Linked DNA regions of Homo sapiens: region 1 is linked to region 2. The links come from fine-mapping of genetic effects on gene expression. Tissue or cell type: whole blood. Region 2 holds a variant in brackets; the other region holds the start of a gene. All regions are shown on one strand. Distances are from middle to middle.

Region 1 (10,710 bases), 25 kb after region 2:
AATAAGGTTTAATAGCTTTCTGCACTGCCAGAAGCCTGTACCCAGAACTCTCTCCTCCCCTTTTTCTCTTGCTGAGTGCCCTGTGGGAAAGAATCTCATAGACTATCCTCTAGGAAGTGCTAATTTAGAGCAACCCTCTTTTTTCATGCTGGGAGGGAAATGACACTGATTATTCTGTGCCAGGCACTCTTCTAAAAATGTTATATGTCTTAACTCACTCAATTTCAAGAGGGGAATTATTATTCTTAGCTCCATTTCATAGATGAGACTACTAAGGCAGACAGAGTTTAAGTAACTTGCCAAGTTGCTAGCTAGAATTTTGCCTGGGTGGGCTGGTTTCAGATTCTGTGCTCCTAACTGCTCTCAATGCAGCTTCTCAGGGCAGCACTGGAAGTCCAAGGGGCAGCTGTGACATGCCCAGGGTCACACTGTGAGTTGGTGGCAGCATCAGGACTGGATCCTGGGTCTTCTTACCAGGCCCTCATTTGGCAAGAGGAAAACAGATGCTACAACACAGAGAACAGCCCACTTTCTTGTGCAATACTAGACAGAGATGAGGGCTGTGCTGTCGTTCGGTTGTTTTAACATTTCAGGAAGATATGCAAACAGCAGAAGAAACTGATATGGCCACTTTGGAACAAAATATGGGAAGAAATTGGGGAGAGGAAGGAATGTATGAGAAAAAGCCTCTGTGCAATTAGGATAGTCATGCTTAGCCCCCGAAGGATGTTCAGCCAATAGCTGGCCCATATTTCCTGAGAAAGATGAAGAGTGCACCTTAAATAAAGGAAACAAACAAGGACCAGTCTGGGGATGGGACAGTAAGACCAGAGCCCAGGGACAACAGCGGACAACAGGATGAAAAGGCAAAGAGGATAGGGTGGGAGGGAGGACACTGGAGCGGATCACAGGTGTGGATGACGATGCTGTTATAGCCGGATCCACAGAGGCAGAGTCAGTCCCGGGTGAATCACTGGGAAACCACAGGCCAATCATGAGCTCCACACTGGCAAGCGGCTTAGTGTAGAGGGACAGCAGCAGCTGCTTAGACTCCAGGGCCTTATTAAAAGTACAGATTCCTGGGCCTCCTCAGGCCCCTAAATCAGAGTCCAGGGTCAGAGCCACAGGAGACAGGGAAGACATAGATTTTAACCAGCCCCCTTCAGGAGATTCTGAGGCTCAGTTCACTTTGTTGCAGTTTGAACAGAGGCAGCAAGGCTAGTGGTTAGGGGCACGGTCTCTAAAGCTGCACTGCCTGGATCTCCCTCCCAGCTCTGCCAGGAACCAGCTGCGTGGCCTTGAGCTGCTGACACGCAGAAAGCCCCCTGTGGACCCAGTCTCCTCGTCTGTAAGATGAGGACAGGACTCTAGGAACCCTTTCCCTTGGTTTGGCCTCACTTTCACAGGCTCCCATCTTGAACTCTATCTACTCTTCCTGAAACCTTGTAAAAGAAAAAAGTGCTAGCCTGGGCAACATGGCAAAACCCTGTCTCTACAAAAAATACAAAAATTAGTTGGGTGTGGTGGCATGTGCCTGTAGTCCCAGCTACTTGGGAGGTGCTGAGGTGGGAGGATCACTTGAGCCCGGGAGGTGGAGGTTGCAGTGAGCCAAGATCATGCCACTGCACTCCAGCCTGAGTAATAGAGTAAGACTCTGTCTCAAAAACAACAACAATAACAGTGAGTGTGCCTCTGTTTCCGGGTTGGATGGGGCACCACATCTATGCATCTCTCAGATTTGGACGCTGCAGCCTGGGGTTTGGTAGAGACCTGGGACTAACCTGGCTGTTCTACTCCCTACACTCAGCTAACATGCCTTTCAGTGCCAAAAGGGGTCTGACTTGTGTCACCAACCCCTGCCTGCGCCTACCCAGGGACTGGGCTCACTGGAGACCGTGGAGCTGCAGGACAGAGAAAGAAATGTGAAAGCATCTGATTGGACAGAACAGCCACACAGCTCTGTGTCTTCTGAGGGACTGCATGTGCCTGTACCACGTTCACCTTCCATTTATTATGTGTCACTCCCTGTGACATCTCCGCAGGTGCCTACTATTATTAACCTCTTTAACAAGGAAGGTACATAAAAGCCCACTTATCTCCCCATGGTCACTCGGCAATCAGGTACCCAGAGCCAGAGAGTTTTCTGGAAAGCCTGTACTGGTTCTCAAACCTTAGTGTACTGGGTGTTTCTGGGACAGGTGTTTCTAGGACAGGTGTTTGTTGGGGGTCACACTTTGAGAAATCATAGGAACCATGATGGTCTCCTGTCAACCAGTAGGGACTGGTCAAGTAAATTATATGAGAGCTTCAAAATGGAAATCTAGGCGGTCACATCACAACATGATAAAGATCATGTTGAAGACTTTAAAAAATGTTGAAGAGTTTAAAAATAAGAATAGCTTTTACCCCCCACCCCCAATGGCACTAGCTCAATGTAAAAAGCTGACACAGTACCGAAAAGAAAGTAAAAAATCATTTTGAGTCTTACTACTCAGAGATCTCTCCTGTTAGGCTTTCAAAAAAAAAAAAAACATTTTGACACAGCAAAATGTTTACGCAAGATTGATATACAAAACCAAACAGGTACAAACAATACTGTGAAACTCCATTTACACCGGAGATGGCCTCATCCTCAGCAGAAGCCTCTAGCACCATCTCTGCCAGGTAGAGGTAGGGGTGACACCCATCACCCCTTCTCTGAGTCCATTTGGTAAAGCAGATGGTATGAATGGAATGTCCCTAGTGGCTAATTAATCAGTCAGGGAGTTGCCATAACTGGTTTCCTTCTATCATCCTTGGGCCTGGGCCAGTTATCTTAGGAGCCCAAAACAGCCCAGACATGTTTTGCCATAGACCTGAACACCCACAGAACAGTAAGAGTAATTTGAAAGATTTCTTTTTGTTGTGCTAGGTCTGTGCAGACCCTGGCGATACAGAGATGAATGGGACAAGTCTTTGGCCCTTAGGGAGCTACCTGTCTATGAGGGGGGACATTTAAGTGAGCAAATAATTACAACAGGTTGTAGGTCAGAGAAAGGGAGGCACAGTGGAGGCTCCCTGGGGGTGCTGGGGACCAAGCCGCCTGAGAGACACCTGCCCTGGCCAGAGAGCAGTTGGCTAGGATGGTTCTGAAGCCAGAGAAGCAGGAGATAGCTGGGAAGATGAACTGTATGGTTTGTTCAGAGCTGGAAACACCCACGGAGTCCGAAGCCCCAGAGGGACGAAGACTCACCTGTCACTCAACCCTTTCTACTTTTGCCTTTTTGCTAGAGGAAAAGATGGAAGTCAGCACACCCTGACTTGAGAGAAGCGATCTGGGCTACAGTTTTCAATTAAAGGGCTTTGTGGTCAGATAGGCAAGGGGCAGGGCCCCAATCTTGTTTTCCTACTTGGGATGAATCTTGGCCTCTGAAAGTTTAACTGATTTGTGCTTTTTTCAGGGTGGGGCTGTGGTGAAGGAGGGAGCAATCCCTGGAACTTGTTTTCTTCTATATTTCTTCATTTGGGGTTACTTACACTTTGAGAAAAGCTTCCTTATTTGTAAACAAGGGTTGGGAAGGAGATGAAGGTCCCAGTTGCTAGGCTGACTGGCTGGGGAACTTTTGCAAGTGCTTTCCATCTATTTCCCTTTTTAAAGGACGGCTGATCATTTCACTAAATGGCCTACATACACTTCCTATATCTTTTTTTTTTTGTTTTGTTTGTTTGAGGACGTCTTGTTCTGTTGCCCAGGCCGAAGGTCATGGCTCACTGCAGCCTGGAACTTCTGGGCTCAAGCAATCCTCCTCATCCTGCCTCAGCCTCCGAGTAGCTGGGATTACAGGCGCCTGCCACCACTTGTGGCTAATTTTTGTAGAGACGGGGTCTAGCTATGTTGCCCAGGCTGAGCTTCCTGTATCTTAAATTCTATGACATTCTTCATGGGATGAAGAAAATGATATGACTTCTTCAAAGACGAACGAGTCTTGCAAGCTGTCGTTCTCTCCAGCCCAGGTGAACCCTACCAAGAAAAACAGCTTGTCTGAAACGCTGTTTTCTGACTGAAAGTGTAGGGAAGCTGGAAAGTAGCTGGTTCTGTTTTATTCCCCGAAGAATCAGGCTACAAACTTGACAAGAGCAGGGCCGGGGATGTGCGCTCGGTGTGCGCGCGGGGCTGCGGGCTGAAATGCGCCGGGGGTTTCCCTTTCGTGGAAGCCTTCCTGGAATCTCCCAAGGCGCTGCTCTCCGCCCTGGGGCGCCGGCCAGAGGTCCGGGGCCGGGGGCCCCGGACCCAGCTGTCTTCAGCCACCGCGCCCCCACTCTCAAGCCGCGCCACCGCGGGCGCTCGGTAACTGCTCGCCTAGCCGGACTGCCTCCCAGCAGGAGGGACAAATAAAGAGGAAAACCACAGAGCCACCGCAACCTATACCTGCCGCGTCCCCCAACCCTGTTCCAGCTGTTGGCAATGCTGCCAACACACCCTTCACCAGCCCCGGGCCAGCGGCAGCGAGGATTCGGGGTGCCGAGATGGCAGCTCCAGGAGACCCCGCCCCAACCGCCCACCCTCTTCACCGTAGCGCCCGGCCCTTACCGCCATGGTGAGTGCGCAGGGCGGGCGCCAGGGCCGCGTCTGCTCGCTCGGGTCTCCTCGCTCCGAGTCAGTTCAACCGCCGCCGCCGCCGCCGCCGCGATAGCTACCCTGGCCGCACGGATCACGTGGTCCGGGCGAGGCGGCGCGCGGGCGCCTGGGAGTTGTGGTCCCCACACGCGCCCTACTTCGGCGTCCTCGGGCGCGCCCCCTGGCCGAGACCCAGGCGCCTCGCCCCAGGTTCCCAAGGGCTGAGGCTTGGCGTTCCCGGAGTCGCGAGCGAGAGGGACCACCTGCTGCCCTCTGTCTTCGCCCTTCCTGTTTTGCACTTGGCTTGTCTTGGCGATTATGAGAATGTTTATTGCTCATTGTAATAAACTACCCCAAGCGTAACATATATTGAGTTGAAATGGGCAAGTCCGTGCTATGGACGCAATAGCAACACATTTGGAGTAAATTAAGTCAATTATGCCCTAGATTTTTAGTGTAGTCATTACAAGATAATTACATTTTTCTTTTTAGAAAAATATTTTCCAATCTGATAAGCCAAAAGGAATACACCCGTGTAATTTTGTTTTTCTTTGATTACTAGGGTAGTAAACTATTTTTCTTACGGGTACTTCCATTTCTGTGTATTGCCTGTTCATTTCACTGATCCAGTTTTTTGATGGGGAGTTTCTTGTAGGGTGAGGGATTTTTAATGGTTATTGATTCTTAAGCATATTTAGGAACCCTTTGCTAATCAGCCTATGAGTAAAGAGGCTCTTCAGAGAAACCTTACTAAGGACAGTATTAGCAGAGACCTTGAGCCTGGAGCTAACCTCAGTTCACATCCATACGCATCAACTATTGGCTTTGGGACCGTAGGCAAATAGCTTACATCTCTGAACCTCAGTTTTCTGGTCAGTAAAATGAAAATAATAATAAAATCTATGTCATAGGGATTAAATGAAAACATACATGTTAAATTATCATGTAACCTGGCAGTGGGAGCTTGTTCAGTAAATGGTAGAATCCTCAGGGTCACACAGCTTTTTTTCTTTTCTTTGAAACAGAGTCTCGCTCTGTCGCCCAGGCTGTAGTGCAGTGGCGCGATCTTGGCTCACTGCAACCTCCATCTCCCGTGTTCAAGCAATTCTCCTGCCTCAGGCTCCCGAGTAGCTGGGACTACAGGCGCGCACCACCATGCCTGGTTAATTTTTGTATTGTTAGTAGAGACGGGGTTTCACCATATTGGTCAGGCTGGTCTTGAAATCCTGACCTCGTAATCTGCCCGCCTCGGCCTCCCAAAGTGCTGGGATGCTGGGATTACAGACGTGAGCCATCTTGCCCGGCCCACACAGCTTTTAAGATTCTCAGTCTGAAAGCTAATGGAGCAGCTTCAGGGAGAGAACATGGGCCGTGGCACTGTGATGGGGCTGGAGAGGGAGAGCTGCTGCTGTCATGGTTTACTGGGCCATGGGGAAGCACTGGGGAGAAGGGCTAAGGGTATCTCTGAAGCATCTGGGTTCCAAGAGCTGGGGAGGGCTTTGGGTGTAGCTTTTCACCTCTCTGGGCCTTACATGGGAAGCAGGAGTAAGATAATCTGACCTTCACATAAGTGGGCTCTGGTGCACCCCACTCCCCCCACCTGCATTGAAGAATCTGCAACACAGCTTTATTCATTTGACGGTTTTTGTTGGCTTTGTCACAATCTGATGACCTTTACACTTACTTCTAACTTCCTCATGGATGTTTTGGTTACAACACTTAGCCAGGGAGTCCTAAAATTTCTTTCTGTACCACCAGAGGCACTCCTTCCCTGTCCCCCAGGCAGAGAGCTTGTTGCAAACCATGGGATCCTAGATCATAAGATCACAACACAGCCACCCAAGCCTGGGTCCATGGCAAGAGATTCCGGATTCTGTGTTTTGACAGCCCATGACTCCCCTCCTTTCACGGAGCAATAGTCTGTTGTTGTCTTTCCATAGCACACCTAGACCCCCCGAGACAGAATCCCCACTCAGGAAAGATGGCACTGCCTTGAGTGTCACAAAGATTATTTAGAGGCCCTTTAACCTGGGCTCATTTGTAGTCAGTTGATAGAGCGGAAATCCAACCAGTCATTTCTCCTTCTGAGGTTCAGTAGAGGAACTTGAGACTCATGAAAAGACCACATGCACAACATGTAATTCCTGCAGAATGTTGGGTCTTTATGTGTAGGTAAGGCTGTGTGATCCCCAAGGATGCCACTGCCCGTCTCTGGGACCTCGATGTCCCCATCCGTACAGTGAGGGGTGGAATGGATGACCTGCAACTGCCCTCCACGTGCTGATCTGCAGTTATAAGTGAGCCTGAGGGTGGAGTTGAACATGTTATGGCCAGGACCTTTGCATATTTTCCCTGTTAACTCCATCAACTAGCCTTCCATCTTCTCTCCAACGATACCTCTATTATTTTATATTTATGCCATGAGCAGTATTGTGGATCTGATGTGTGTGACACAGGAGGAGCGTGCACATTCAAGGTTGGCCTGTGTGGAGACAGTGGGTGTGCGTGTCGTGGGGGCTAGTGTTTACTGGATCTTGTGCTGGTAAGGCTGGAGGAAGCAGGAGCCAGGCCGCCAACAACCCGGAGGCTGTGTTGAAAGTCAGGAATTTACTCTGGGACAAGAAGGAACTACCAATGGGTTTTTAATATGTATGTTTTCTCACTGCATTTTGTTCTTTTTCTTTTTTCCCAAATGTCACTCTCTTAGTGAGGCCACTCTGACCACCCAATTTATTTATTTATTTTAGAGACAGGGTCTTGCCCTGTCACTCAGGCTGAAGTGCATTATTGCAATGATAGCTCACTGCAGTCTAGACTCCTGGCCTCAAGTGATCCTCCTGCCTTAGCTTAGCCTCCTGAGTAGCTGGGACTACAGCATGCCCAGCTAATTTTTAACAAATTTTTTTGTTTATTTTTGAGACAGAGTCTCGCTCTGTCTCCCAGGCTGGAGTGCAGTGGCATGATCTCGGCTCACTGCAAGCTCCGCCTCCCGGGTTCATGCCGTTCTGCCTCAGCCTCCCGAGTAGCTGGGACTACAGGCACCTGCCACCACGCCTGGCTAGTTTTTTGTATTTTGTTTTGTTTTGTTTTGTTTTTTAGTAGCATGGGGTTTCACCGTGTTAGCCAGGATGGTCTCGATCTCCTGACCTCGTGATCTGCCCGCCTCGGCCTCCCAAAGTGCTGGGATTACAGATATGAGCCACCACGCCTGGCTGCCTCCCTCTTTTAAAGATCCTTATGATTACATCTAGGACCCATCAGATAATCCAGGGTTATGTCCCCATTTCAAGATCCTTAATTTAATCACGTGCGCAAAGTCTCTTTTGCCAGATAACATTCACAGGTTCCGACCATCAGGACCTGGATAATTTTTAGGGCCATTATCCAGCCAATTGTAGGGGTCATCCACATTTATAACTTTCCTGACTGTCTGGAAGGGCTTTGAGCCAAACCAGAGCAAACAGCAGGCCTCTGGACAGCTGAGAAGAAAGCAATGGTTTGTTTTAGCTTTGCAGGGAAGGTAAGTGCTGTGAGGATCCCTTCACTGTTGAAGCCAGGGCTGAGGAGGGAAACACCCCTGAGAATTCACAGGTATAGGCTCTTTACCTCAGTTGTCTTGACAGGTTCCTTTCACAGCTGCTGCAAGGTTGTCTACTCCAGCTGCCCGGGACTCCCAGGCCCTGCATGCCTGCCTCCTGCAGGAAGACTGAGGGGCCCTGGTTTCTCCAACAATGCTGCACTGAGCTTGGAAGGCCAATGCTCAGACTGCCCCACATTTGCAGGGTAAACAGGTTTGAAAAACAGCCATCCATGTCCCATCCAGCTGACGACAGCAAATTTACAAATACTTTTTAAGCAAACTTGCGGCAAAATACACATAACATAGGCCAGACATGTTGGCTCACGCCTGTAATCCCAGCACTTTGGGAGGCTGAGGCAGGCAGATCGCTTGAGGTCAGGAGTTTGAGACCAGCCTGACCAATATAGTGAAACCCCATCTCTACTAAAAATACAGAAATTAGCTGGGCGTAGTAATGGGTGCCTGTAATCCCAGCTACTTGGGAAGTTGAGGCAGAAGAATTGCTTGAACCTGGGAGGCAGAGGCTGCAGTGAGCAGAGATCACATCACTGCATTCCAGCCTGAGCAACAGAGTGAGACTCCATCTCAAAACAAAACAAAACAACAACAACAAACACACACACAACATAAAATTTGCTCTCAACTATTTTAAGTGTACAGTTCAGTATTGTTAATTATATTCATTAATTATACATCATGTAACCCATATCCAAGATGCTTTTCATCTTGTAAAACTGAAATTCTATGAACATTTAACAACTCCCTATTCCCTTCTCCCCCTGCCCCCGACAACCACCATTCTACTTTGTATCTCTATGATTTGAATGTCTCTCGATACCTCTTAAGTGGAATCACATAGTATTTGTCCTTCTGTGACTGACTTATTTCACTTAACATAATGTCCTTAAAGTTTGTCCATAGTGTGGCAGGTATCAGACTTTTCTTCCTTTTTAAGGCTGAATAACATTTCTTTGTAAGTATATATGATATTTTGCTAATTCATTCATCCACTGATGGACACTTGGGTTGCTTTCACCTTTTGGCTATTGTAAATAATGCTGCAGTGAATGTGGATCTATAAATACAATGTTTTAAAAAAGTGAGTGCTTATCTAGAAGCTTGGCCCTGTACTTCTTTTCAGTCTCATGAAAAGAAGATAGGAATGGACCCCCTCTCTCTGTCCCTGTGTAGGCTTCCTGCTGCATTCAGAGTTCTGAACGTATCCCCAAAAATCTCTACCTGATCCCGACTGTACGCCATTTCCTAATCTTACAGAGATTTGGCAAAGCGGGTTTCAGCTTGTGTACAGTAAATTTCCTCTACAGCAGGTTTTCCTCATCTTGAAGAAATAAACGGATTTTCACCCCCAGGAACCCTAAAACCGTTCAAACAGGAGCATCTTGTTGATATCCCCATGTTGATCTACTATGTATATTTTGACTCCCAATGTATCACAAACCAAATGATCATTTGGTGCTGGAGGAAGGACCCAACTGGAAAAATCTTCTGACTTATCTTTTGGAGTAAGGTAAAGTATTCATTTGACCAGATGAAATGGCTGACATTTGACCATTTTTAACCTGAAAAAAAAAAGGCAATTTCATATATAGTTCAACCAATAGCTGAGGCCACTGTAGGTAGACTCCCCACCCACTGTGCCTGAGTCTGAGAAGGAAGAATGCCTAGCAGATGTAAACCACCTGTCTCTGACACATTGCCGTGGGGGAGACAGCTAGGGAGAAGCTGGTTCTGCTCCGATAACAAAAGGTGTTTTTCTGGTGGTGGGGAGGGGTCAGGGAGGCACTTGAATGAATCTTAGCTCTGGTCACAGTCTGAGGCTGGTGGTTAGTATTATGTGTACCCACCAGGACAATACCTTTGAGACACAGCCCTGTCCCTTCTGTTCTCTCTGGATGGGGAGGATGGGACTCCAGTAGCTAATCAGTGTCCTGGGAGGAATCCATTTGTATCATGTCTGTTTTGAGCAACCTCCATTCTAAGAGGCAACATTCCCAGATCTCAACTCTGCAGCCACCAATTAGGGATTGGGGCAGAGGGGCTGGATAGTTAGTACCATTTCTATCTTTTTCTTTTTGGTTGAGACTCCCCATATATAAGCTCTTCTTTTTAAAGCAGTTAGTATTGAGAAATATTTAATTTAGCCAAACAAAGAAGGTGTGTAAATTTGGCAGTAAGTTGTTGACACATCCATGTCACACTATTACCACGGTGATTCAGAGGCAAATCTGAAGAATAGGATGATAAGCAGTTGATACTTCATTCACTCAACAAACACCTTGCACTGTTTGGGGTCCGGGTTTTGCAGGACAGAGAACAAACCACCTGGTAGTTGACAGGTCAGGGAGGCTTTTTTGGGGGAAAACTCAGTGGTCCAGGCATCTCTCCCAAACATGCTTAAACGGCCCCTTTGGAGATATCATAAGTGATTGGTGGAGATATCATAAGTGATTGGTCAGCAAAGCATTGTGGATGAGGGGTCACCTGTGTGTGTATGGGGATGTGAATTGTGTGC
Region 2 (10,710 bases):
TATTATCTCTCTTGAGTACTATTTTCCTGCTTCTACCTTGCATGCTTTTTTTCACTGTTTTTCTGAACTGTTAGTTCTTCCTGTCATTGCTTTCTTTTTCTCACTCTCCATGTCAGCAGTAGAATTTGATCCAGGGTAGGAACCAGGGTGTAGATTTTTTTGTGTTTTCCCTTCTCACTTGATTATACCCTGACCTTAAAAAAAAATTATAAGTACACCTATACACACACACACACACACACACACACACACACATTTTTTTCTGATCATAAAAGTTGCATCTGTTCAGTCTGGAAAATTTAGAAATACAGATAAGCAAACATAAAATATAAATCCTTCCACTCAAAAATAATGATTATTAATATCTTATCCATTCCCTTATTTTCTGTGTACATGTACATTTGGGGGACAGCATTAATTTTTATGCTTCTGAGAGGCCTTTCTAGCTAAGGACCTGAGATAAAAAGAGCTTTTGGGTGATTTTCTACTCTGCTTAACCTTTAGCAAGAGAGTAACCCTGCATTTCATTGGCACGCCTTTGGAATTTGTCCCTTCCAGTGTTTTAGCTGCTGCAAGTCCTTATGAGAGAGGTGCATGTTCTGTTATTAGTGAACTCTGAGCTATGAATAGATGCAAAGCTCTCTGAGCTCTGAGTTAGTTTTGTTTTCATTAGGCCATTTGAAGCAGGACAATGAGTAGATGAAAGCCACTCCTATATCTGGAACTTCTAGATTTCATTGTCATCTGTGTTTAGCAGGTGAAAACCTAAGGCTACTGAATAGCAAAAATAAGTATCTTAAAGCTTAGTCTAAAGGTTACATATACTCTCAGATACTCATTTATAGCCTATTTATTTTTATTTATTTATTTTTTAAAGTGAAAGCAAGTTTATTAAGTGAAGGAATAAAAGAATGATTACCCCACAGGCAGAGCAGTGGCATGTTATTTTTATTTTATATACAATTTTGTTTTCTTGTTTTTTTTTTTTTTCTTTTGAGATGGAGTCTTGCTCTGTTGCCCAGGCAGGAGTGCAGTGGCACGATCTCAGCTCACTGCAACCTCTGCCTCCCAGGTTCAAGTGATTCTCCTGCCTCAGCCTCCGAGTAGCTGGGATGACAGGCGCCCACCACCATGCCTGGCTAATTTTTGTATTTTTAGTAGAGACCGAGTTTCACCATGTTGGTCAGGCTGGTCTCGAACTCCTGACCTCGTGATCTGCCCGCTTCGGCCTCCCAAAGTGGTGGGATTACAGGCGCGAGCCACTGCGCCCGGCCTTTATTTTCTTTTTTTAGGAGAGTCAAAATATCAGATTTTAAATGCAATCTATAAAACCGATAAAGACTTTGGAATAAGGCGAGGAATAAATATATTTAAAACAAGTGGGTACAGTGAACACAGTAAGAAGAGACAAATGATAATAAGGAAATAGACAACTGTGAAAATGTATGTAAGGTATAATAGAGACAGGCATAGTAGCTTGCACCTGTGGTCCCAGCTACTCCAGAGGCTGAGGTGGGAGGATTGCTTGAGCCCAGGAGTCCGAGGCTACAGTGAGCTATGTCGTGTCATTGCACTCTAGCCTGGGTGACTGAGCGAGACCCCATCTCTAAAAAAAAAAAAATTTTAAGTATACTGGTATAGGTATAATAGTATAGGAGTCATAATAGTAGTAGTAATATAATTGTATAGGAGAGATGGTCCACCCCATAATTTGAATTTGGTTTAATGCAGGTTGAAGGCAGCCATAACTCCCTGTTTACTAGTTCAGTCTACATAGAGTTATGTGAGGTTGGTTCATCACCTGCATGGAGAACACCTATGTTTAAAGTGACATCATACTTTGTTATTATTCAGGCCAAGGTGACAGAGGAGTTAGCAGCGGCCACTGCACAGGTCTCTCATCTGCAGCTGAAAATGACTGCTCACCAAAAAAAGGAAACAGAGCTGCAGATGCAGCTGACAGAAAGCCTGAAGGAGACAGATCTTCTCAGGGGCCAGCTCACCAAAGTGCAGGCAAAGCTCTCAGGTATGTGCTAGGTGGGGGATGCTGGGATTGTTGCCATTTAAACTCAAGGAATTAAGCTGTTTTCTTCCTCTCAATTTTTTTGGCATGATGCTCATGAAGTTTTTGAAGGACTACACCAAAAATTAAAGGAGACTAGTATAAAACCTACATGATTGTTTTACAGAAGGAACAGCAAAAGAACTGACTATTCATGTGGAATTGATCAGTGCCACAGTTCCCTTTTGTTTGGGGAGGTGTTGGCTTCAAAATCTTTGGTACTTATGATTGGCTTCAAATGCCTGGAATAGTTGATGTGTTGTTCTAACTCATGACTCAGTGGAAGTTTAAAAAAGAAATGCTTCCTGGTGTGGTTTCTTCTTTCCTAGAAGATGGATTGCAACTCTTCAGCCTCACACTCAAGGCCCATCCTGCTTGGCTTGTCTCCCGTTATATTGTCCAGTTCATCCTGGCCCTGACCATGCCAGCAAGCCTGCTGGCTGCTCTTCAGCTCATCCTGTAGTTCTTGTCTTGCTTCTTATCCATGCTATTCTCTGGACTTGACATGCCCACCATTACCAATATTCGCTTTTAGTCCTCTTCAAAATCTGCCTCTTTCAGAAGCTTTCCTAGTTTTCTCTAGAACATTTGATCTCTTTAAAAAAAAATCCTTTATCTCATAGTGCATTATTATAACCCTTATCACAGTTTGATAAGCATGGTGTTTTGCTCATCTTTGTAAAGTCCTCTCCTCCATATTAGTGTTAGTTCAGTGCCTGGCAAGACATGGTGATTGGATAGAAGATTTGTGAAGACCAGCAGGTTGATTAATCTACCTTGGTTTATGGAAACAAATATGGAAGGCAGACATGGGACTAGTGGGCAGGGGGTAGCTGGAGCAGCAGCAGAGTTGGGTGGAAGCAAAGTTCATTTGCCTAATAGAGAACTAAAAAACAATGATGTCAATTGGTAAGGTGCTACCTTGAAGATACATCCCTTCCCTTTTATTTTTTTAAAAATTTTTTATATTTTGTAGAGACAGGAGTCTTACTATGTTGACCAGGCTGGTTGTGAACTCTTGACCTCAAGCCATCCTTCCGCCCTGTTCTCCCAAAGCGTTGGGATTAACAGGCATTGGCCATTGCTCCCAGCCCATCTCTTCCCTTTTAGAGCATGACTGGGCCCACATGAGGCAAATGTGTTAGACAGTCTTAGATTTGAATGTTGTTCAAATGTCTCATTTCTGCTTTTGTGGTGCCTTATGACAATTACCTCAAGAGTCATAAGAGTCTCAAAAGTTTCCCAAACAAATTTTATTTATTTCAAAGAGCTTTATTTGAGAAGGGATGCTTTGAAAGCAAATTCTTGGTAGAATGTCCCAGCTACCAAGAAAGTTGAGACTATCTTACTCAAGCAGTGAGAAAGAACCTGGACTAATACTAAACAATGATTGGTCCAGTGTGTTAAGATGGTGGCCAAAATGGACTTATGAGAGTTATCTGTTTCAAAGGTCATTTCTGACTGCTGGGAACATGTCCTTTCCATTTCGTATGTGGAGAAGGTGACATGTATACACAGAGATGACTTTCTATGGGATAAATATGGGTTGATGAGGGAGTCAGCTGACGGCTTGACAAATCTTATTGCTGGTCAGTGAGGTGATGTTGAAAGAAGTGAGCAGAGGCTGCTTGTGTGGTAGGATTGGGAAATCAAAGCACGCGGCTTTGAAAGAGCCACTGGGGCCAGGCGCAGGGGCTCACGCCTGTAATCCTAGCACTCTGGGAGGCTGAGGCAGGAGGACTGCTTGAGCCCAGGAGATGGAGGCTATAGTGAGCTATGATCACACCACTGCACTCCAGCCTGAGTGATGGAGCAAGGCTTTGTCTCCAAAAAATAATTTAAAAAAAGAGCTGCTGGGATAACACATAGCCCATTACAGCTTTGGTTCTGTAGCGAAGTCTCTCTGCTCCTGTATCCCAGAGCTCCAAGAAACCTCTGAGCAAGCACAGTCCAAATTCAAAAGTGAAAAGCAGAACCGGAAACAACTGGAACTCAAGGTGACATCCCTGGAGGAGGAACTGACTGACCTTCGAGTTGAGAAGGAGTCCTTGGAAAAGGTAAGCTCTACAACCCAGTTGGCCAGAATTAGCTGTTTAATAAACATTTTTATTTTCCTTTTACAA[A/G]TTACAATAGTATGTGCTTATTGTAACAAATACAAATAATATAGAAAAGTGTAAAATTAAAAAAAAATTTTCCCCGCTCTAATCTCATACATTGAAGGTGACAGTTATAAAGTGTATGATCCTTCCAGATTGTTTTCTGTATGTAGAAAACATACATTCACACTCTCACACACATACATGTATGTATACTGACAACTTTTTTTACAGTAGTGGTATCACGTTTAATGTTTTTTAGGAAAATGTCATGGACTTGTACTACATAAGAAGGAGATCTTTCTCACTCGTAGTTAACTGCTGCATAGTAGCCTACTATGAGGCTGTACCATAATTTGTTTAATGATTTGCCTATCGATGGATATTTATGTTTTTATTTTTTCATTATTTTAAGCACTGCTTCTATGGACATTCTCATATTATATAACTGTTTTTGCAAATTTGTTTGAGCATTCCTACGTGATGGATTGCATGAGTAAGAATCATGGGATCAAAGGGAAGGCTACATATTTGAATTTTTATAAATATTACCAGGTTATCCTCAAAGAATAGTGCTTACACTTTCAGCAGTATGTGAGTGAGCCCATTTGTCACATTCTTCCCCACTCTACATATATCACTTTTTCTAATCTTCATTAGTCTGACAGGTGAAATATGTTATCTTGTTTTAATGTGTATTTTTATTAGTAGTAAAGCTTTCATATATTTAATACCTATTTGTATTTCTTATGTACATTCTCTCTTTAGTGTCCTTTATCCTTTTTCCTATTATTAGTTTGATTTGTAAACCCTTTTAAGGGTATCAATCCTTTGTCAGTCATAGATGTTGTAAATATTTTTCTAGCTTGCTGTCTTTTAACTTTATTTATAGTATCTTTTGTTGGTTAAAATTTTAATATCAGGAAATACTAAGTGAACAAAGTGAGAACATTTCTATCTTTTTGTCTGTTCTGGAATCGTTTAAATATGAAAATAATAAACTGCTCCTGAGGCTTCAGTAAATCTCATTAGGTAAAGCTGTTTTGGCCCAGTGCCTTTTAAGAGGGTAAATCTTGGTCTGCAATTGCATTTTTTTCCAGGATTTTTTCCATTTTATTTATTTATTTTTAACCAATTCCTTCTAACCTCTTGGCTGTTTTCAGTTTGTCATTACTATAGATACTACTACAGTGACCATCCTTGTAACACACTCTTTATGACTATGACTTATTGAATCCTTAATTACAATTTGTGGAATTTCTGGATACGTATGTTTTTAAAGGCTTTTCACAGGATTACTATCCAAAGAGAGTATATCCATTCGTTTTCTTACTATCAGGGTATGAGAATGTCTGATTTCCTGTACCTTTATTAAAGTTAGGATGTTCCCTAGCTCTTTTTTTTTTTTTTTTTTTTTTTTTTTTTTTTTTTTTCTGAGGCGGAGTCTCGCTCTGTCGCCCAGGATGGAGTGCAGTGGCGGGATCTCGGCTCACTGCAAGCTCCGCCTCCCGGGTTCATGCCATTCTCCTGCCTCAGCCTCCCAAGTAGCTGGGACTACAGGCGCCCGCCACTACGCCCGGCTAATTTTTTGTATTTTTTAGTAGAGACGGGGTTTCACCGTTTTAGCCGGGATGGTCTCGATCTCCTGACCTCGTGATCCGCCCGCCTCGGCCTCCCAATTTCCCTAGCTCTTAATAGAGGGGTAGATACAGCTCTTCTTGTTTTCCTTCTCCTGTCACCATTTTCCTCACCCAGTAGCCAAGAATGTTAAATATTTAGGGGAAAATTCAACTAAAAAATGGAGTTTTCAGAAATGGAGTAAGGATTCCACAAGGTAATTAACTGCCACCGCCATCATCCCTCTTTATTCTCTGTTAACAAGCTAGAGCTGATGATGGTTCTCTTGTTCCTAAGAACCTCTCAGAAAGGAAAAAGAAGTCAGCTCAAGAGCGTTCTCAGGCCGAGGAGGAGATAGATGAAATTCGCAAGTCATACCAGGAGGAATTGGACAAACTTCGACAGCTCTTGAAAAAGACTCGAGTGTCCACAGACCAAGCAGCTGCAGAGCAGGTAATGGGAAACTGAAGCACTTTGAAAATAGAGGGAAGGTGTGAAGGACTCAGAGAGAAAAGCTTCTGGTTTCTTCCTTACCCTTTAGGATGACATTTCTCATAGCTGATACTCTCACTTTGGAGAAAGGTAGAAAAAGTAATCCAGATATGTGCAGGAGAGCCAGGAATCAAATGGAGAATCTTCTTTCTTTTTTTAAAGCTTAGTTAATATTTAATTACATAAGTAAAAATGAAAAATAGTTTCCTTACAAAAAAAATTCCAAACATGGTAAGGCCAAAACCATCAACCATTGGACACCATCCTTCAGGCACATTATCATCCTTGAAAAGAAGGGATTGATTTAGGTCATCAGGAAGGGAACCAGGGATAGTGGCAGGACACAGCTGGATCTCTAGTCTGTGCAACAGCAACCTTTCTCATTATAAGCTTAAAATTTATATGCATACATTTGTTTAATTAGAGTGCATTGGTGCCCTCAATTTGACCACCTCTGGGAATTTTGGTGAAAAAAAGTTTCTGAACCTATAAAGTTTAGGGTTCAGACCCTGAAAAGCAGTGATCACATGGCCCTGCCCTCCAGGGACCTATCTAGATAGGCACACTTTTGTCTGCTTGGAGTACCTTTTGGAGTCCTGACAACCAATGACATCTTAAGAAGTGCATTTATTTTAAAAGTAATGAGTCTTTTAAACAGTTTCCCAGTTAAATCTGGGCTGTTAGCTTATTCTTTTGCTTTTTGAAAGATGGGTTTCCCTAGGTGCAATGGAATCTCACTCCCCCACCCCCAAGGATGATATGGTCATTACTTTCTCTTGGCAGCTGTCTTTAGTACAGGCTGAGCTACAGACCCAGTGGGAAGCAAAATGTGAACATTTGTTGGCCTCCGCCAAGGATGAGCACCTGCAGCAGTACCAGGAGGTGTGCGCACAGAGAGATGCCTACCAGCAGAAGCTGGTACAACTTCAGGAAAAGGTACATATTTTTCTTGAGTCAGACAGTTTAGGCAGCCCAGTTAATTTGAGGCAAGCAGGCTGTTTGAGTCCTGTCGATCCTTCTAAGCCTGAAAGTTATTAATATCTAGAAGACAAAACCACACTTGTTTAGCTTGTCAGTTATCTTTCACATACTTATGTGGGGTGATAGGTCAGTGACCTGGAAAAAGAGAAAACAGCACTAGTGTTCCGGAACATGTTTCCCATTATTATTGGATCCTTCATTTATTAAGCAAATATTTATTGAGAGTCAGTTGTATTCCATCCAGTGTGTTAAAGGAAGTGCATACAAGGAACCCTTCCCTCATGTATCTCACAGTCAAGAAAGGGAGACAAAGAAACAAAGATAGGTGTTAAGTGCTATGGGGCCCAGAAGAGGAAGTACCCAGGAGAGCTGGGAAGGTTTCCCAAAGGTGGTGACATTTGAGCAGAGCCAAGAAGGACAAATAGCTTTGGTAAGGCAGCAAAGGAGGCAGAACATCCTGGGCAAAGGCACTGAGATAGGATGGAGGCTGGGGTGTGGTGGGATCATCAGGCCTGAAAAAGAGAGATGGGACATGGCTTAGGGTCATGGTGTGAAAGTCCATATTCGAGGTCAGTTTCTTTCCTTAAAGTGTCCAGTTGAAAACTTTTGGCTCAGAGATCTTGGAGGCAATCTTGCAGATGAATGACAAATGGGTTGCTGTTAATGCTGAATGTTTATGTCTAAATGACTAGTTATTACCTACCCTCCTGCTCTTTTTTCATTATATTTTTTACCTGATTGGGAACAAGGCAAGCAACCTTCTTGGGAAAGAGAAAGTGAAGTTTTGCGTTGAAGTCGAATGATGAGGAGATAGAACTCTCTGAGGCAGAGGGTCGTGGGTGGGGGCTGAGGGAGTGGACACCAGCAGACCTAGGCGAGGTTAAGACTTGATGTTTAGAGATTCTGGAGAGGATGTGGAGAAATAGGAACGCTTTTACACTGTTGGTGGGAGTGTAAATTAGTTCAACCATTGTGGAAGACAGTGTGGCGATTCCTTAAGGATCTAGAACTAGAATTACCATTTGACCCAGCAATCCCATTACTGGTTATATACCTAAAGGATTATAAATCATGCTACTATAAAGACACATGCACATGTATGTTTATTGTGGCACTATTCACAATAGCAAAGACTTGGAACCAACCCAAATGTCCATCAGTGATAGACTGGATTAAGAAAATGTGGCACATATACACCATGGAATACTATGCAGCCATAAAAAAGGATGAGTTCATGTCCTTTGCAGGGACATGGTTGAAGCTGGAAACCATCACTCCCAGCAAACTATCACAAGGACAGAAAACCAAACACTGCATGTTCTCACTCATAGGTGGGAATTGATCAGTGAGAACACTTGGACACAGGGCGGGGAACATCACACACCGGGGCCTGTCGGGGGTTGGGGGACGGGGGGAGGGATAGCATTAGGAGAAATACCTAATGTAAATGATGAGTTGATGGGTGCAGCACACCAACATGGCACATGTATACCTATGCATCAAACCTGCACATTGTGCACATGTGCCCTAGAACTTAAAGTATAATAATAATAAAAAAAAAGAATTTGAAATAAAATTGTCTTTTTATTATATGCAAAAAAAAAAAAAAGAGACTTGATGTTTGGGTGGTTCTCCTCCCCTTGGGTTTTCTGACCTTCACCTGGTTCCTGAGGCCACAGCCACAGTCTGTTTGTTTTGCAGTGTTTAGCCCTCCAGGCCCAAATCACAGCTCTCACCAAGCAAAATGAACAGCACATCAAGGAACTAGAGAAGAACAAGTCCCAGATGTCTGGGGTTGAAGCTGCTGCATCTGACCCCTCAGAGAAGGTGAGCTGGTATTTCAAATGAGAAGCAAGCCATTTATATCAAGCATTCAGAAAGAACATGGCCAGTATGTTGTGTTAATAGCTCTTTTTCTAACTTTAGTGATGTTTTACTTGTCTGATGACTTTAAAATGAACCAGATTTGGTGTTTGTTTGTTTGAGACGGAGTCTCACTTTGTCACCAGGCTAGAGTGCAGTGATGTGATCTTGGCTCACTGCAACCTCCGCCTCCCAGGTTCAAGCGATTCTCCTGCCGCAGCCGCCTGAGTAGCTGGGACTACAGGCACGCGCCACCACACCCAGCTAATTTTTGTATTTTTAGTAGAGACAGGGTTTCACCATGTTGGCCAGGATGGTCTCGGTCTCTTGACCTTGTGATCCGCCTGCCTCAGCCTCCCAAAGTGCTGGGATTACAGGCATGAGCCACCATGCCCGGCCCAGATTTGGTTCTTGAGTTTAAGGAGCTTACAGCCTAGTGGGAAAACAAACAAATACATACTTACATATTAAGTGGCAAACCCAAAAGAACCCTATCTTTCTGAGGTTTTGACAGGTATAGGAAGGGCCTCTAACCACAGAAGAAGAATGGGGCTTGGGGAGTGTGCCCAGCATCCACTGGCCTCTGACCCTTAGAGCCTATGGCAGCTCCTAGTGGTGCTCACAGTGGGAGGGGGACATCAAGAAATGGTCTTTAAGCAGTCTTGGGCACACAGACCACAGCTTGCCTGCCCTTGATAGGTAACTCTCATGACTAGCCCTTCTGTCAAAGTGCTGCTCATTATTTAATATCATCCTCTCCACAGTGACAGCCTTCAGTGTCTCTGCTTATGACCAGCAGTATCCCAGTGTAGAGATCTAAGATGGCTTCATTTTGGCCTTCCATACACCTCTCTGGAATTTAATGCATCCTTTAGTGACTTGATTTTGACAGCATGTGTTTTGATGTTCACACAGGTCAAGAAGATCATGAACCAGGTGTTCCAGTCCTTACGGAGAGAGTTTGAGCTGGAGGAATCTTACAATGGCAGGACCATTCTGGGAACCATCATGAATACGATCAAGGTACAGCCAGCCAGCTGTCATTTGTTTCATCGTATTGGGCATTTTGTTGCTTAAGTACCTTCTAAGGGATCATGAATAAAAAATTGTTCAAAGCTGGCACAGTGGCTTATGCTTGTAATCCCAGCATTTTGGGAGGCCAAGGTGGGAGGACTGCTTGAGGCCAGGAGCTTGAGACCAGCTTGGGCAACATAATGAGACTTTGTCTCTACTAAAATTAAAAATTTAAAAATTAGCCGGGTATGGTGGCACGTGCCTGTAGTCCCAGCTACTTGGGAGGCTGAGGCAGGAGAATCACTTGAGCCCAGGAGTTCAAGACTACAGTGAGCCATGATTGCCCCCAACTGCACTCCAGCCTGGATAACAGAGCAAGACCCTGTCTCCAAAGAAAAAAAAAAGAAAATTATTCAGGACTGTTCCTCAGTAATTAGGATGCCTGGAGTGACTTGACAGATATAGTCAGCCTCTTTTAACAGGAAAGAAGCAAAGTCATTTAAACTACATGACCAGTAGTGTTAATAAGAATTAGGAGTGGCTACTGTGTTCCTTTCAGTGACCATCTCTTCCTTGGCTTTTGAA

Evidence for each region. PIP is the estimated chance that this variant, and not a neighbour inherited with it, causes the effect.
Region 1: it holds the start of SLC31A2, and the variant in region 2 is fine-mapped to the expression of SLC31A2 in whole blood (INTERVAL, PIP above 0.99).

Annotation. Positions count from the first base shown.
Region 1 is chr9:113,144,941-113,155,650 of GRCh38, reverse strand. It overlaps SLC31A2 (solute carrier family 31 member 2), which reads right to left and starts at 4,644. Exons shown (of 4, transcript NM_001860.3): 1 at 4,571-4,644. The coding sequence starts at 4,576.
Region 2 is chr9:113,169,946-113,180,655 of GRCh38, reverse strand. It overlaps FKBP15 (FKBP prolyl isomerase family member 15), which reads left to right. Exons shown (of 28, transcript NM_015258.2): 20 at 1,855-2,026; 21 at 3,983-4,119; 22 at 6,073-6,228; 23 at 7,051-7,203; 24 at 8,950-9,075; 25 at 10,027-10,134. Among named protein-coding and RNA genes, the nearest start is that of SLC31A2, 24 kb to the right of the region's middle. The variant A/G (reference allele first, on the strand shown) is at 4,186.